2 separate regions of the Homo sapiens genome follow, and region 2 is linked to region 1. A link means that fine-mapping ties the variant in region 1 to the expression of a gene that starts in the linked region. Tissue or cell type: whole blood. Region 1 holds a variant in brackets; the other region holds the start of a gene. All regions are shown on one strand. Distances are between the middles of the regions.

What was found. PIP is the estimated chance that this variant, and not a neighbour inherited with it, causes the effect.
Region 2: it holds the start of ING1, and the variant in region 1 is fine-mapped to the expression of ING1 in whole blood (INTERVAL, PIP 0.96).

Annotation. Positions count from the first base shown.
Region 1 is chr13:110,678,709-110,686,887 of GRCh38, forward strand. CARS2 (cysteinyl-tRNA synthetase 2, mitochondrial) reads right to left here. Exons shown (of 15, transcript NM_024537.4): 6 at 4,343-4,426. Among named protein-coding and RNA genes, the nearest start is that of CARS2, 23 kb to the right of the region's middle. The variant C/A (reference allele first, on the strand shown) is at 4,674.
Region 2 is chr13:110,710,146-110,718,324 of GRCh38, forward strand. It overlaps ING1 (inhibitor of growth family member 1), which reads left to right and starts at 3,555. Exons shown (of 2, transcript NM_198219.3): 1 at 3,555-4,140. The coding sequence starts at 4,005. It also overlaps a transcript of CARS2 not described here. RefSeq lists enhancers at 1,982-2,071, 2,672-2,721, 5,362-5,531, 5,709-6,402, 6,272-6,361 and silencers at 2,212-2,551, 2,225-2,393, 3,392-3,741, 3,752-3,941, 4,102-4,391 and 4 more.

The DNA.
Region 1 (8,179 bases):
AGGCAGCACACTGTCATCCACAGGCACAAATGCAGAGAATACTGTTCCCGAGAAAGGGCTCTTCCTTCAGAAACTGCTGGGGAATGAGCTTCAAAAACAACAGGGAAAAAGCGGACCTGGAGACGGTGGGAGGGGGGAAGAGTGGACGGGGCTACAGAAGGCAGCGCAGGCGGAGGCTGGGCACTCCAACATATGGACACGCGGGGCGGGGAGGAGGCACGTGCATGGGAACCTTCTAACCGTGGTCAAGCCTCGGGCAGGGCTGGTCCGTGATGGACTAAAGCAGGTGGATGCCCACTGGTCATCCGGTCACGCCCGTTGTCCTTACCACACATGTGAACAGACAGAGGGGTTAATGAAACCCCGTGGCCCTGAATTTGAGTATCAGTGTGACCTACGGAGCAGATGCGTTCATTACCTCAGTCTATGGGAGAGGCCAGGAAACAATGACAGACGGCAATGACAGATGGCAACAATGAGTATCCATGGTGCCCATGCTGTGTTCTCAAAACACCATTTCCCATTAAAAGTAAAATGGGAGCTGGGCGCGGTGGCTCACACCTAGAATCCCAGCACTTTGGGAGGCCGAGGCGGGCGGATCACCTGAGGTCAGGAGTTCGAGACCAGCCTGACCAATATGACGAAACCTCGTCTCTACTAAAAATACAAAAATCAGCCGGGTGTGGTGGCAGGTGCCTGTAATCCCAGCTACTGTGGAGGCTGAGGCAGGAGAATCGCTTGAGCTCGGGAGGCGGAGGTTACAGTGAGCCGAGATCGCGCCATTGCACTCCAGCCTGAACAACAAGAGTGACATTCTATCTCAAAAAAACAAAAGAAAAGAAAAGAAAGAAAGAAAGAAAGAGAGAGAAAGAAAGAAAGAAAGAAAGAAAGAGAGAGAGAGAGAGAGAGAGAGAGAGGGAGGGAGGGACACCGGGCGTGACCGGAGGGAGGGAGGGAGGGAGGGAGGGAGGGAGGGAAAGGGAAGAAAAGGGAAGAAAGAAAAGAGAAAAATGGGACTTCCAGGAGAAACAGCTTATTTTAAGATGAGCCAGGAATATCTTACCATATCAGATAGACAGCCACAAAACTATTAACTACAACAGGGCTGAGTGTAAGGGACTCGGGAGTAGCTGCTACCAGCAAAAGAGGGGGCACGCCGAGGCTCAATAAGGTGATGGCAGCAATGGGTTAAAACGGCATGTGCACTGAAGCCCACGAGCTCTCAGCAACGGAAGAACATGAACTGGTCACTGCCAGAGGAAAATATGGAAGCCAACTCCTTGTTCTGAAAACTGGTAAGTTAAGGAAAAGGTCCTGCCTTTCTTATACAAACTGTACCACTGAGTAACCAGATGACAGTCTGCCTGTATAAAAGTATTCCAGCAAATGGGCCAGGCACGGTGGCTCACACCGATAACCCCAGTACTTTGGGAGGCCGAGGGGGGGGGGGGGGGGGGTGGATCACCTGAGGTCAGGAGTTCAAGACCAGCCTGGCCAACACGGCAAAACCCCATCTCTACTAAAACTACAAAAATTAGCTGGGTGTGGTGGCATGCCCCTGTAATCCCAGCTACTCTGGAGGCTGAGGCAGGGAGAACTGCTTGAACCTGGGAGGTGGAGGTTGCAGTGAACCGAGATCATGCCACTGCACTCCAGCCTGGGCAAAAGAGTGAGATTCCGTCTCAAAAAACAAACAAACAAACAAACAAAAAAGGTATTCCAGCAAATAAAGCAGAATGGGAGTTGCACCACCATGCCACCTCTTTTTGCAGTGAAGGATCTAAGCCTAGAGCGGCCAGGGCTGCTGACACACAGAGGCAGAGCCCTTACGTGTCTCCTGGTGAGGAATACACCATCTACAAAGTAGCCTTCTCCAGAAATTTAGAACTGGATTAAGCCTCTACATTCAACTACCAGTTTGCAAAAAAACACACAGGACAGAGGGAAATGTTACAGACACTCCAAAACTCAGAGCAAGCGAAATCCCACTGGGGGAACCGTGAGACACATGACGTTTCTCCCTCAAATGAGCAGCAAGGGGAAGAAGCCAGGGGAGGAACATGTGGACTAAAAACAAGACACAAATATAGAACAGCTAAGGCTAAGTGTCGTGTTAAGGGACACGTGTTTGGGCAATAAACCCATTCAGAAAAATGAGGAGGTGGCCGCTGTCAGAGTTAGGGCAGTAGTTGCCCCCAGGGCAGGGCAGAGAGGCTGGCAGGCAGGGCCCGGGAGGTTATCGGCCAGGGCGTGGGACCCGGAGGACTCAGGTGCCTTCGCTCCCTTGCCATTGTTGTCTCCTTCCACTAGGGGGTGACCGCAGGGTCTCCACTGAACACAAATTCACTGAGCTGGGCATTTTTGTTTGTTTGGTAGAGACAGCAAGGGGTCTCACTACATTGCCCAGGCTGGTCTTGAACTCCTGGCCTCAAGTGATCCTCCAACCTTGGCCTCCTAAAGTGCTGGAATTACAGGTGTGAGCCACCATGCTCAACCAAGTTGGACATTTTTTAATGGTGTTTTCTATTGTTGTGTTATTACAACAATTTAAATTGAAAATTAAAAAGACAACACCATTGCTTTGGAAATAACATACACTAAGGCATTAAAATTTTTTTTCACCATATGTAAAAATGGTGGTTTTATTATCTTTGTTTTGTGTAATTCTATTTCCTAATTTTGTACCATTATAAATTATATAAATATGTTGCTTTTGTATAAGAAAATATTTTTTATTTTAAAAAGCACTGCTGTGAAGATGTGGAACGACAGGGACTTATTCCTCACTGGTGGGGATGCAAAATGGTGCAGCCACTCTGGCAGAAGCTGGGCAGTTTCTGACACAAATAAGCCTCTTCCCAGAGGACCCAGCATTGTGCTCCTTGGTATCTGCCCAAATGAGCTGAAAACCTGCACGTGGATGTTTACAGCAGCTTTATTCATAATTGCCAAAACTCAGAAGCAGCGAAGATGCCCTTCAGTAGGTGAGTGCTTAAGCTGCTGTAAATTCAGACACTGGGACGTGACTCAGTGTTAAAGAGAAACGAGCTCTCAGCCATGAAAAGACACGGAGGAAAATTACTGTGTATTCCTAAGTGAGAGAAGCCATTCTGAGAAGGGTGCACAGTGTATGACTCCAACTATATGACATTCTAGAAAAGGCAAAACTAGAGACTGTAGAAAGACCAGTGATTTCCAGGGATGGGAAAGAGGGAAGGATGAGCAGACAGACCACACAGGATTTTTCAGGGCAGTGCAAGTATCCTGCGTGATGCTGGAATGGTGGAAACATGTCGCTATACATTCACCCAAACCCAGAGCACACAGTGCCGAGAGTGAACCCTGATGCCAACTCTGGTCTCTGGGCAAAGCTGATGCGTCAATGGTGGGGGATGCTGACAGTGTGGGGGGCGGTGTGGAGGGTAGCAGGTAGACAGGAATTCTCTGTACCTTACTCTCAAATTTGCTATGAAGCTAAAATGGCTCTAAAAAGCAAATCTATTAAATAAATAATTTTAAAAAACCTTCCTGATGCCAGAATGTACAACTCTCAGAAACTTCTCCTCCACATGTGTAAGCAAAGCCCACACGGCCTGCTGGTAGCCACGCCTCACACGTGGCTGATGTGGGCGTCTGTGTTCCGGCCTGTGCGGGGAGCGGGACAGGGCACCACGGCGGGGGAAGGAAAGAACCTGAGGGGTCAGTGCTATGGATGGTTAGGATTCATTGGCACAGTTTATGGCGCAGAAAGACAGTGCCTAAAACCAGAAATACCTTGAACAGTCTTTGGGGTCTGTCCCTGTTATTCTTGTTTGATTCCCTTAGACAGTATCCTTTTCAAATTATTTTAAATTTAGTTCCATATACTGCGCTTACTATTTCTTCTCCATAAAAATGTTTTGACCTAATAACTCCCTGGAACAGAATAGAGCAAGGAAGAGATTCAAACAGATTGGAAGTTTAACACATAGTAAGACACGTATGGGAATTAAATGTACGGTAACACAGAAGAACGCGAAAATATGATGTACGTGTATGAGGTTTTCATGTGCGCTGAAAACCCTGGGGAGGAAAAAGGAGACAGTGACCAGCACTGTCTCCAGGGAATGGAGCCAGGCACGCTGGGGGCGGGGGTGGACGATGCCCCACTTGCCGTTTGAACTATATGCCTCACAAGCTGGAGCCATCCACAGAAACCACACTAAATTTAAAACACAGCTGTGACCTGGGTAAGGCCAGTGTCTGAGCAAGTGGAGGGGTCTGCGCTCCAGATCTCATCTCCCCAGAGCTGAGACCCGAGGCAGAGGTCAGGGACCCACAGGGCTGAGCCCGGCCAACCCACCTGGCTCTCCGACTGGACCAGGGACCACGCCGACCAATTTGCCATACTTGTCTCCTCTAGACTTCAGATCGAAGTAGACATTGCCTGTTTATAAAGACAATTATGAATTCATCACTTCTCAGTCTGAATATCAGCATATTGACAACCTTAACATCTAACAAGTAATTAGAATTTAAATACAGAACATAGCATTTGGCCCCATATACATATATAGTATTTATATTTTTATAGACAGGGTCTTGCTGTTGCTCAGGCTGGAGTGCAGTGGTACAATCACAGCTCACGATAGCCTTGAACTCCTTGGCTCAGGCAGTCTTCCCACCTCAACCTT[C/A]CCAGTAGGTGGGGCTATAGGAGTGACACCATGCCTGGCTTAATATATTTGTTAACCAGAATTAAAAACAATACTATAAGATAAATGCATGATTTGGACATATCATGAGTACACAGACGTGAAAGTGAAAACACAAATGTAAGTTCTCTGTAAACTACTGAGACAATTATTTAATCAGAAAAAAGAAAAGTGTTATCACTGACCTTCATTTAGATCTTGTGCCTTGTGTTACACAACAGCTAACAAAGACACTCTTTCTTTACTTTATGTTACACACCAGCTAGCAAAGACACTCTTTCTTTGCCCAGTCATCTTCTAAAACTACCTTTTTACTCAGATTGAAAACATCATCTGGCTGGGTGCAGTGGCTCACGCCTCCAATCCCAGCACTTTGGGAGTCCGAGGCAGGAGGATTGTTTGAGCTGAAGAGTTCGAGACCAGCCTGGGCAACATAGTGAGACCCCATCTCTACCAAAAAAAACACACAAAAAAATCATCTGCATATTGAAGTGTCTGTGAGGCTGAGTGCCAAGGTCCGCTTTGCAGTCTGAGGTCAGAACCTTCTCCAGAGCCTCCTGCAAGCCTGGGCTGCCCTTGCCCCTTCCACCACAAAGCCTAAGAAAGCAGAGCTGGGGAGGAGGCACTCAGAGTGGGAGCTTTGTCAAGAAGAAAGCACTACCAACCTATGCTCCAAGGCTGCCCGGCTGCAGCCGCTGTGTGTTCCAGGCCATGTGTCTCCCTAGGAAGGAGGCAATGCTCATCCGGGCTGTGACCATGGCCATTCTCAGTACCACAGATCCGCAGCCACCATCCAGCACCCTCCAACCACACAGCAGCATGTAGCTGTCCTCAGGCCCCAGGCGTGGGTGCAACTTTTAGCCTTTACAAAGTTTGAGTCTTCACATTCTTTTTTACTAATGCAGTTACTGATTTGCATCAGTACTGTCCTTACTGCGGACACTGGTGTTGGTAAGATCAAGGAAACTTTGCAACTGGCAAACACAAGCTGCACCCAGGACCTGCCTCATGTCCTCAGCCTGGATGTCCCCCTCCTGTCCTCTGGTTCATCCCCAGCACCGAGTGCCAGCTTAGTGGTCAACCCCGAATGACCAGGGAGGACGCTGAAGGGACAGGGCAGGGTTTTCTGTTGAAATGTCACCCGGCTTTGTTTGCCCAAGCCACACTGGCCTTTCCTCCCACCAGTGACCATTGTGCTCAGAAAACCCTGCCCTGTCCCTGCAGCGTCCTCTCTGGTCATTCAGGGTTGACCATTAAGCTGGCACTCGGTGCTGGGGATGAACCAGAGGACAGGAGGGGGACATCCAGGCCCTGGGAGCTGCTTTCTATGAAGTCAGAATATAAACAGTGCTTTAAAAGCGCTTCACTGGAGAGAAACCACTCCCTTAAATGGTGGAAACATTCCCCCTTCACTTTGCTTTATGTTATCAATTTGCTGAAGAAATTGTTTTTCACCAAGAGTTCAAAGATCAAATTACAACCAAGCCCTTGTGGAATTGTAACAAAGTCCAAATTACTGGGGTTTGATTGAATGTAAGTGTATTTTGAATTAATTATATTTATACTATCATTAAATTGTTTATAATAAAACACAGTAACAAAACAACAAACAGCATTCAATCCTCAAGCCTGTGAAGACGAGAATCCCTAAAGACTCGTGAACATTTATCACTTTATTCCTAAAATGGAAGCACAGGCCCACATATCTTATTTCAAGTTACACGACAGCAAAAAATTAATTCCTGTGTTTTCTGGTGCAAACTCTAATTCAACCACCTAAGTCCTTTAAAAAAAGTTTTTCCTGGGAGGCTGAGGCAGGAGAATTGCTTGAACCCGGGAGGCGGAGGTTGCTGTGAGCCAAGATTGTGCCACTGCACTCCAGCCTAGGCGACAGAGCAAGACTCTGTCTCAAAAAAAAAAAAAGTTTTTCTTTGAAACAAAATCTAAATATACCACATTAGAACAAGTAAAAAGCTACTTCCATACACAGAGCCTACTGAGCAGATCCTCAGGGCCTCACGTGCTCATCTTACGCTCCAAGTAGGACCCAGGAAGGACAGGAACGTCCAGGGCAGTGCTTCATGCTTTCTGACTCATTGCAACAAACATTCAATACCTACGTATCTTCAGCCGTCGGCTGGATACTTTAAGGCGTCATTCAGTAAAGCAAAAGGTTTTTATGGTCTGAGAATTTATGATCTAGATGGGGACAAAATATGAATACATTAAACAGCAAACTATGGCAGTGCAGAACTGGCTGCCAAATGGTACAGCAGAGATATCAAGGCTGAGAAAGTAAGTTCACTTTCAACTGTGCTGGGTGAAGGAGAACTTCATGGAGAGATGAGGCTGTGGTCAGGGTTTGCAGCCAGGATGGGTGGGATTTAGTTCGGATTTATGGCGATGCTTCATCACCAAAGCAGCAAAACAGCAAGACGCCAGCCTTGCCTGGGGTCCACCAGACAAAGATTAGCATCCGCAAACCAATGAAACCACCTGCAGTAAGCAACATGCAAATCTAAACACAGACTGCTCCACAGGAAAACTGACCTGTCAGAGTCTTGAATCTACATGTGCTTACCCAGAAAAAATGAAAAAAAAAAAAAAAGAGAAAAAAAGAAAAAAAGAAAGAGGAGGGGAAAAAGTGAGGAGACTAAACCAACAAATGCACACGCAGCACATGCCCTGGGGACAAGTGAGTATATTTAATACAGAGAGGACACGCGAAGCTAGCCAGAAATTCTTCATTGTCTGAGGTCTGACCATGACATCTGGACTCCTTTTATGCAGAGATGCATGTTGAAGTGTCATGGCTGATGCGACAGAACATCTGCAACTCACGCTTTTTTTTTTTTTTTTTGAGACAAGGTCTCGCTCTGTCTCCCAGGCTGGTGTGCAGTGGGACAATCATGGTTCACTGCAGCCTCGAATTTCCTGGGCTCAATCTATCCTCTCACCTCGGCCTCCTGAGTAGCTGAGACTACAGGAGCACGCCACCATGCCTAGCTAATTTTTATATTTTATTTTTGTAGAGAAGGGGTCTCTCCATGTTGCCCAGGCTGGTCCTGAACTCCTGGACTCAAGTGATCCACCTGCCTCTGCCTCCCAAAGTGCTGGGATTATAGGTATCAGCCACCACGCCCAGCCCTGCAACTCACTTTTTTATTTTTATTTTTTGAGACAGTCTGGCAATGTCACCCAGGCTGGAGTACAATGGTGTGATCTCGGCTCACTGCAAACTATGCCTCCTGGGTGCAAGCAATTCTCATGCCTCAGCCTCCAGAATAGCTGGGACCACAGGCGCGCGATACCAGGCCTGGCTGATTTTTTGTCATCTTAGTAGAAAGAAGGTTTTAACATGTTACCCAGGCTGGTCTCAAATTCTTGGCCTCAAGTGATCCACCCGCTTCCACCTCCCAAAGTACTGGGATTACAGGCATCAGCCACCATGCCTGGCCCTGCAACTTTTTGTTTTTTGTGCAGGGGAG
Region 2 (8,179 bases), 31 kb after region 1:
CAAGACAGGCGGATCACCTGAGGTCAGGAGTTCGAGACCAGCCTGGGCCAACATGACAAAACTCCGTCTCTACTAAAAATACAAAAATTAGTTGGGCATGGCGTCCGGCACCCGTAATCCCAGCTACTCAGGAGGCTGAGGCAGGAGAATCGCTTGAACCCGGGAGGCGGAGGTTGCAGTGAGCTGAGATCACGCCACTGCACTCCAGTCTGGGTGACAAGAGCAAGACTCCGTCTCAAAAAAAGAAAAAGAATTATATGTTCATCTCTTATATCTGACTCTCATAGGTTTGAGCATTTTCAGTTAGACTGGAAATATAATTTTAGAAAAAAGTTTAATTTTAAATGTTTCTTTTTAATCCATTTGAAATTTCTGTTCTACGGAAAAGTTTTAACATCCATTTTTGCAACACGCCACAGGAAACAAAACTGAAAGAGACAAGATTCTTCAACGTATCTTCAAAATTAAGCACCTTTCTTCAATGACATTTAAAATTCGTTATCAAAGGTAATTATGTTTTATTGCTTGATCTTCTAAGTTTGTTCCAAAAAAGATAAAATCTTTTTTGACTTTTTATCCCAAGGGGTGGGCTAAAAGTTTTATGGAATGTAAAGCTCCAAAAAACTTTTCACTACTGTATCCCCAGCGCACGGACCAGTAGTTGGCACATGGTAGACACTCGTCAATATTCCTTGTTGAATGCTTAAGATGCCTTTTTGGTTTATGTGTATGTGAAGAGAGTACATAACTAGAGGAACAAAATCATTACTCAGATTGTACTGTGTTGTGATTTTTTTTTTTAAAAAGAAAACCTAGGTTAAACTCCATCTTATCTTTGTAAAGGGTAAATTACTTCCAATTTTATTCTTGAGTTCAGATAAACACTATTCATTCTAGAGCCAATGAATGCTAGGAATAGAAGAACCGGTCTATTTCTTACTATTGTACTTTTAAATTACTTATATGCTTTTTGAGGGAAAGGCGTAATTTTCCTTATTCAACTTTGTACTCCCTCTATACTCTGTATTCGACATAATGTTTGTTTCCACATAATGTTATCTTGTCGTAGTCTTTTTTTCTCTTTTTTTCCGGAGATAGTCTTGCTCTGTCGCCCAGGCTGGAGTGCAGTGGCACAATCTCGGCTCACTGCAACCTCCCCTCCTAGGTTCAAGTGATTCTGTCTCAGCCTCCCCAATAGCTGGGACTACAGGCACGCGCCACCATGCCCTGCTAATTTTTTGTATTTTTAGTAGAGACAGGGTTTCACCATGTTGCCCAAGCTGGTCCCGAACTCCTGATCTCAGGCAATTCGCCCGCCTCGGCCTCCCAAAGTGGTAGGATTACAGGCGTGAGCCACCGCGTCCGGCCAAGTGTTATAGTCTTTTGTGCAGACCAAGTAGTGGCCAATAAATCTTGTAGAAACTAAAGTACTCATTTGCTTTTAACTAGGCCAAGACTAGAATAGCGTGATCTGTAAGTAAAATAACAGCCATTTCCCCAAATATCAAAGCCAAAGCTCTCCTGCTGTGTAGGTGAGATGAAGGGGCTTAAAAGTGAAGATTAAATCCACTTCAAAGTGTAAAGAGTATCCATCCATTTATCATTGCAGCAACGTTGCAACGTGAACAATCCGATTCCAAATACAAAACAGCTTAATTCAGTCTCTTTGCCGTACTCACATCCATAGCACAAAATACCCGGCAGGGCCCTGGAATGAGCACCACTGCGGTTAATAATCTACTCTATAAATACTGGACGAATCCAAATTTTTACTGGATTACACAGAATACGTTTTTAAAAAATCCAAAGAGTTTTAGATGTTACAACAGGGTTCCATCAAATACCACGTTTCCAAATCTTACCACCAGAATGTGTATCCATTTCAACTGCAATTATTTTGTGTCTAAAACTGTGTACTCTGCTTTGCAACAGGATAAACCCGGTGGATAAAAGCTGAAATCCGACCCTGTCCTAATTAAGAGGCTAAGAAAAATGGAGAACCGCGCTGGCGTGGAGTTGATACAGAAACACTGCAAGGGCTGGGGACAGGGCTTAGTTCGTGGAATACACAGGCAGCACCACCAACCCGGCTCTCCGGAAAAGAGAAAGTCCAGTGAGAAAGGTGAAAACTGACAAGGCACCGTTCTCCGACTTGCTGAAAAAAAGACAATGCAAATAGAGCAGGGTCCAAGGCGGAAGAAAATCAGAGAAAAGCAGGCAGCCAAGCGTGGCGAACACAGCTCTCGGGGCCACCCCGGAGGGGACCCGCGGCGGCCGCAGCGGGGCGGAGGCCGAAGCCGAGGCCGCCCCGGAACCAGAGAGCCAGGCGGGAAGTGCACAAAGGCACGAGGCCACGCCCAGGAGGGGCGGGCCCTTTGGCCGGAAGGGGGGGGGCCGGCGCGCGGGGCCGGTCGCCTAGGCAACGGGCTCGCGTGGCGTCCAGGCTTCTCAGAAAGCCCAAAATCCGGGAGCTTTGGGAGGGTAGAGGGGCGACGCGGGGGAGGGCGGTCCGGGGAGCTGAATGGCCTCAGGACGCCGGCCGACCGGGTGTCTGCATACTGTGGGCGGCCTTTCCAAGTGTGGGGAGCGGCCTCCGAGAACGGTGTCCATGACACAGGGCGGGAAGAGATAAGGCCTAGGGAAGGCGCCCCTCGGGCCTATCCACCTCTTCTGGGGCTCGGCACTAGGAAGCAGCTTCCCTCTCAGGCCCCTTTGTCTCCAAGCCGTTCCAAACTGAGTACCGGGAGACGACACAAAGGGAGGGCGGTGACGGATGGCGCAGGCGCGGGAGCCGCCTAGGCTGCTGGGAGTGGTGGTCCGGCCGCGGAATGGGTAGGTCTCCCGCGCACTCTGCGGCCGCAGCTCAAAGGACACCGAGAGGGTGCCAGTGCGCATGCGCCGCCACTTCCGCCCGTGCCCGGCCCTCCCCTTCCTTCCGCCTCCCGGAGGACTTGGGTTTCTAGTAGTAAGAGTCCGGGGGGCATTACTCACGGTCTCCCCGCCTCCTCTTCATCGTGATTGGGCTGTCAAAGTGATGTTGGCAAGTAGATTGGCTACTGCGGTTGCCAGTTCTGTTTCGGGCCCTACTTATACTGCTCTGTGGGGCGGGGACGAAGAGTCAGGGGCTGAGGAGCGAGTTGCGGTAGTTGCTGTGTACCATGGTCTCGGAGGTTTCTGTCCCGCGGCCCGTTAGGTCCTGGTCGGGTTTTCAGCGAAGCAGGCCGCTCCCCTGCGTTTCCCAGCGGGCGTGCTGTGCCGCCCAACAGGCTCTGCCTCCAAGTGCCAAAAACTCCTAGTAAAGTTTGCGCCTCGCCCGCCGTCCACACCCCAGCGGCCCTGACGCTGTCCCCTCCGCGACCCTCGCCTCTGGAAAAAGTGACAGGCAAGGCCACGCCCCCGCGAGGGCCGGCCTGGAGCCCGCAGCCCCCAGGGCCTGGGACGGTGAGGGGCGTGAATGCGGCGGGGGGCGGGGCCGTTGCCGGGGGAGGGGGCCGGGGCGCATGCGCGCTGCGCAGCGGGGCTGAATGTTTCCCAAGTGTTTGAAACTGGTATTTGGGTTTTCCACGTTGGACAAGTGCGGCTCGGCGGCCAGCGGAGCGCGCCCCTTCCCGCTGCCCGCTCCGCTCCTCTCTTCTACCCAGCCCAGTGGGCGAGTGGGCAGCGGCGGCCGCGGCGCTGGGCCCTCTCCCGCCGGTGTGTGCGCGCTCGTACGCGCGGCCCCCGGCGCCAGCCCCGCCGCCTGAGAGGGGGCCTGCGCCGCCGGCCGGGGCGTGCGCCCGGGAGCCACCGCCACCGCGGCCCGCGCCCTCAGGCGCTGGGGTCCCCGCGGACCCGGAGGCGGCGGACGGGCTCGGCAGATGTAGCCGCCGGGCCGAAGCAGGAGCCGGCGGGGGGGCGCCGGGAGAGCGAGGGCTTTGCATTTTGCAGTGCTATTTTTTGAGGGGGGCGGGGGGTGGAGGAAGCGGAAAGCCGCGCCGAGTCGCCGGGGACCTCCGGGGTGAACCATGTTGAGTCCTGCCAACGGGGAGCAGCTCCACCTGGTGAACTATGTGGAGGACTACCTGGACTCCATCGAGTCCCTGCCTTTCGACTTGCAGAGAAATGTCTCGCTGATGCGGGAGATCGACGCGAAATACCAAGGTACGGCCGGGTGATGGATGGGCGGGGGCGGCCGCCTCCTTCCCGGCGGGTCCGGGCGCGCCGCGGAGCCGGGCCGGTCCTGCCGTGGACCGGAGGAAGCGGCCGGCTCCGCAGCGGCGGCCCTCGGCAGGGGCAGGAACAAAAGGTCTGGAGCGCCTTTGATTCGCCAAGGTCCTTGTGTGCAAAGCCCGGGACACGGAGGAGGAAGGAGGCGCGAGAGGTCTCGCTGCAAGGCTGCGCGACCAAAGCGCTCTTTGTAGTGAAGTGATGAGGCGGGTGCTGCGGGGGAGGGGGCGGCGGGTCCAAGCCGCGTCCTCTAGGAGGGGGTGCAGATTACGGCGCGAGATGGAGGGATGTGCCGGCGCCTGGGGCTATAGGGCGCCGAGACGGGGCTGCAGGAGGAGGGCGGCTGTGGGCCGGGGTTCCCGCGGACCCGGTGCCTCGGTCCCGGGCAACGCCGTTCCTCTGGCCCTTCTTCGTCGCCCCCCACTCAGTCCCGAATCTGAGTGTTACATAAAGTACCGGGTAGTACTCCGCTCGGGGTAGGTCGGCCGCCCCCGCCCAGCCCCCTCCGGCCCTCACTTGGAGCTGGACACCGAGTAGGGGCCGACTGCGAGGGGCGACGCCGCCGGTTGTAGTTTGCGGAGGACGAGGGCTTTTCTCTGTGTGCCGTAGGGAAGGGAAGGGAAGGGGAGGAGCGGAGGCGGGGAAGGCGCCCATCTGCGCTGCGCTCGGGGGGGCGCGGGCAGATCGCTGGCTTGGAGAGGACTGTGGCAGGTGAGAGGACCTGTGCGTCGTTCTCTGCAGACCTGGCCGCCCCGGGTGTCAGAGAGAGGTGGCGAGTTCGTGTCCGCCGGGAATTGTTGGCTGTTGGGGAAACTTTCCTGCGAGGTCAGTCAAGGCTTTGGGGGCTCTGTTTTGAATGTGGATCACCACTCGGAGTTTACTAATGTTTACAAGGCTGCGCAGTAGGGAAACGGAAGAGTTGGGTGGGGGCAAAAAAAAAAATTGACCGCTATCCCCGAAAGTACTAGACGCCTCTGCCGGGAAGGCGCCCCTGCGCGTTCTATCCGAGACGTAGCTTCGCAGCGAATTTTATAGGAACTTCATTAGCATATTATGGAACGTCCCGCCTCAGCCCCCCAGTAGTTGGCTGTGATGTCCTTCGTGGAATGTCCTTATCATTCCCCTGCGGAACGATTGGTCGCTGAGGCGGATGAAGGCGGGCCTAGCGCAATAACTGGTATGGGTCTGTGTTTCCGCTGTCTTCTTTTTTCTTTTTCGGGGAGGAGCGGGGTGGAGGGTGGACGAGTTGATTTGAACGTCTTCGGGTCGCTCGGCCTCCAGCCTTGGATTGGTTCTTCTCGCTGCTGGGGCGGGCCGTGCTCTTCCGCCCTGCGGTGTGGTTGGTTCTCCTCCTGGCCTCCGCCCTCCAAATCGGCGATTCCCATAGGCGGCGGCTCTCGGGGTGCGGGGCGAGTCTCCCGCTGGCCTCCTCCCCATTGGCTGGAGGCCTGGCGGGTGTCGCCCCGGCCCCTCTCCCCGCTCAGCCCGGCCACTTTCGGGCGCGGATTTATAGCAGTAGCAGTGATCCCGGGCCTGTGGGCTCGGGGCCGGGGCTGCAGTTCGGACCGCCTCCCGCGACCCGCGGGGCCGGCTCGGAGACAGTTTCAGGCCGCATCTCTGCTGACCCGAGGGTGGGGCCGCGCGTGGCCGTGGAAACGTGAGTGACTGGGGCTGCGTCCACGAGGGGGACCCTCGGCGCAGAAACTTTTCTGGAAGGTGCTGTCCTCGGGCCGGACGGGCCCCGTGGGGTGACCCTGGGGCTCCGGACGGAAGGAAGGCAGGGGCTGAGACCACTTTGATCGTTCGACGATAGAAAAAAGTAGCGCGGGGCGGGGTGCAGGGTTCCAGCTGTCCAGACAGCAAAGTTCATGGAGCCACTTTGTCCTCCTGTCGTTGCTGGGGAGAGCCTGGCTTGCTGCTTGCTTCATGTTCACCTAGGGTGATGAACTTTTTGGCTTCAGGAAAGATCACAGTCCTGCCCCCCCGGGAGTACTGGAGCGGCGCAGCTGGGAGCGCCGAGAAGCGAGCGAATCTGTCGCAAGGGTCACAGCTCCTTGGACTTCGGTGTAAATGCTGAGCTCTGCCGCGTAGTTCTGAAAGACTTCCACAGACCTACTCTGTAGGAAGTCAAACGTCTTTTGCTTAGTAGGCATCAGTTGTATGTTAATTCATAAACTTGGATTATAATTAGTTTGTCGATTTAAAATGGTGTTTGAGGTTGCTTGAATTATTTTTCAAACATTATCATAAAAATACCCACCCACCCCCTGGGAAGTTCGCTTCATAAAGAACTTCAGTGCAACCCGTATGTAAAATTAAAATACATTTAAAATAATTGGACAAACCAATTTAAATGTTGCTACAACCCCATTTAATCTGTAAATTGCATGTGCTGCTGCTTTCCATGGTAATGTTGGTGTGGAATATGTTTGGAAAAAAGGCAGTAGTGTCTGAAGCTGAGTTGCTGGCATTGAAAAAGCAGAGTGTCTGGAAGGATGGCTTCCTATTTAGCAGTGGTGTTGTTCCTGTTTATAAATATTTGTACTTAGTGGCTTTGTTGATAAAATACTTTGCTTGGAGTATCAAAGAAATATTAGGTAACAGAAATACTTCTTGGTAATTTTGCGATGGGATATCTGTTTCTCTTGCCCACAAATTAGGCTTCACCTGGATGGAAGCTTGCTTGTGATGTAAAATAACTTCTGTGTTATTAAATTTTAAATTTATATGATACAGTTTTCTGTGAAATGACAATATTGTCTTTAGAACTTTGATTACTGATGAAAAGAAGTGATACCATTTTGTAACCCTAAATCCATTTAAAAATAAATGGTACACATATTTTAACATTATGATAAATAAGTTGAATAAATTGGTATTACTTGGATACGTTGAACACAGCTATTTATTTTTATAATTAATTACTATATGAGACTAGGGCTTTCCTCCTGGTGGCAGGCAGCCTGCATTGTTCCTCTAGGAGTCTTCAAAGCTGTCTTTAGTTTGAGAATATACTCTGGAAAATATTACCATTTAGAGAAGCTTCAGCGTTGGCCTGAGTTCTTATGTTTACTCTAGTGTTAGGTATATGTCTTATAACTATTTGGAGATAAGATCTGGAAAGGAAGGGGGTAACATTTTAGACAATCCCTCCCACTCTCAGCCCCTCCCCTAGTTTACAAGTAGTATTGTTGGCCAGGCACGGTGGCTCACTCCTGTAATCCCAGCACCATGGGAGACCGAGGCGGGCGGATCACCTGAGGTCGAGAGTTGGGAGACCAGCCTGTCCAACATGGAGACACCCTGTCTCTACTGAAAATACAGAATTAGCCGGGCGTGGTATTACATGCCTGTAATCCCAGCTACTCGGGAGGCTGAGGCAGGAGAATCGCTTGAACCTGGGAGGCAGGTTGCAGTGAGCTGAGATCGCGCCATTGCACTCCAGCCTGGGCAACAAGAGTGAAACTCCGTTTCAACAACAACAAAAAAAGGTAGTATTGTTGCCTTGTTTAAAGAGACTGCAAAAAGGTTTTAGGAGAATAATCTGGTACTGTTTAATTTAATGGTTACTGTTTGAGGAAAAAGAACTCTGGAATTTCTGTGTATTTAAGTAGCCTTTTTAGCAAGGCTGTTTACTTCAACTAGATTTTTTAATAGCTTTTGTTTCTTGAGAAATTGCCTAATTACACTTGCCAAATTACACTTTAAAATCATATACACTGTCCTCTAACATGCCCAGGAAGGTTTACATTTAAATACTGAAGAGGTTTTCTTTTGTTTTTGATAACATTTTAAAGTCCATTGACTTTAACAGATGTGAAGATGTTTTTGTTTAAGCAGTAGATGCAAAAGTAAAACCTACCAGCTTCGCTTTAAAGCAAGGCTAGTGCATTCACTGCAGTTAAAAAATAATAATAATAGCCCATCACAGTGGTGCTTCTGTAGTCCCAGCTACTCAGGAGGCTGAGGTGGG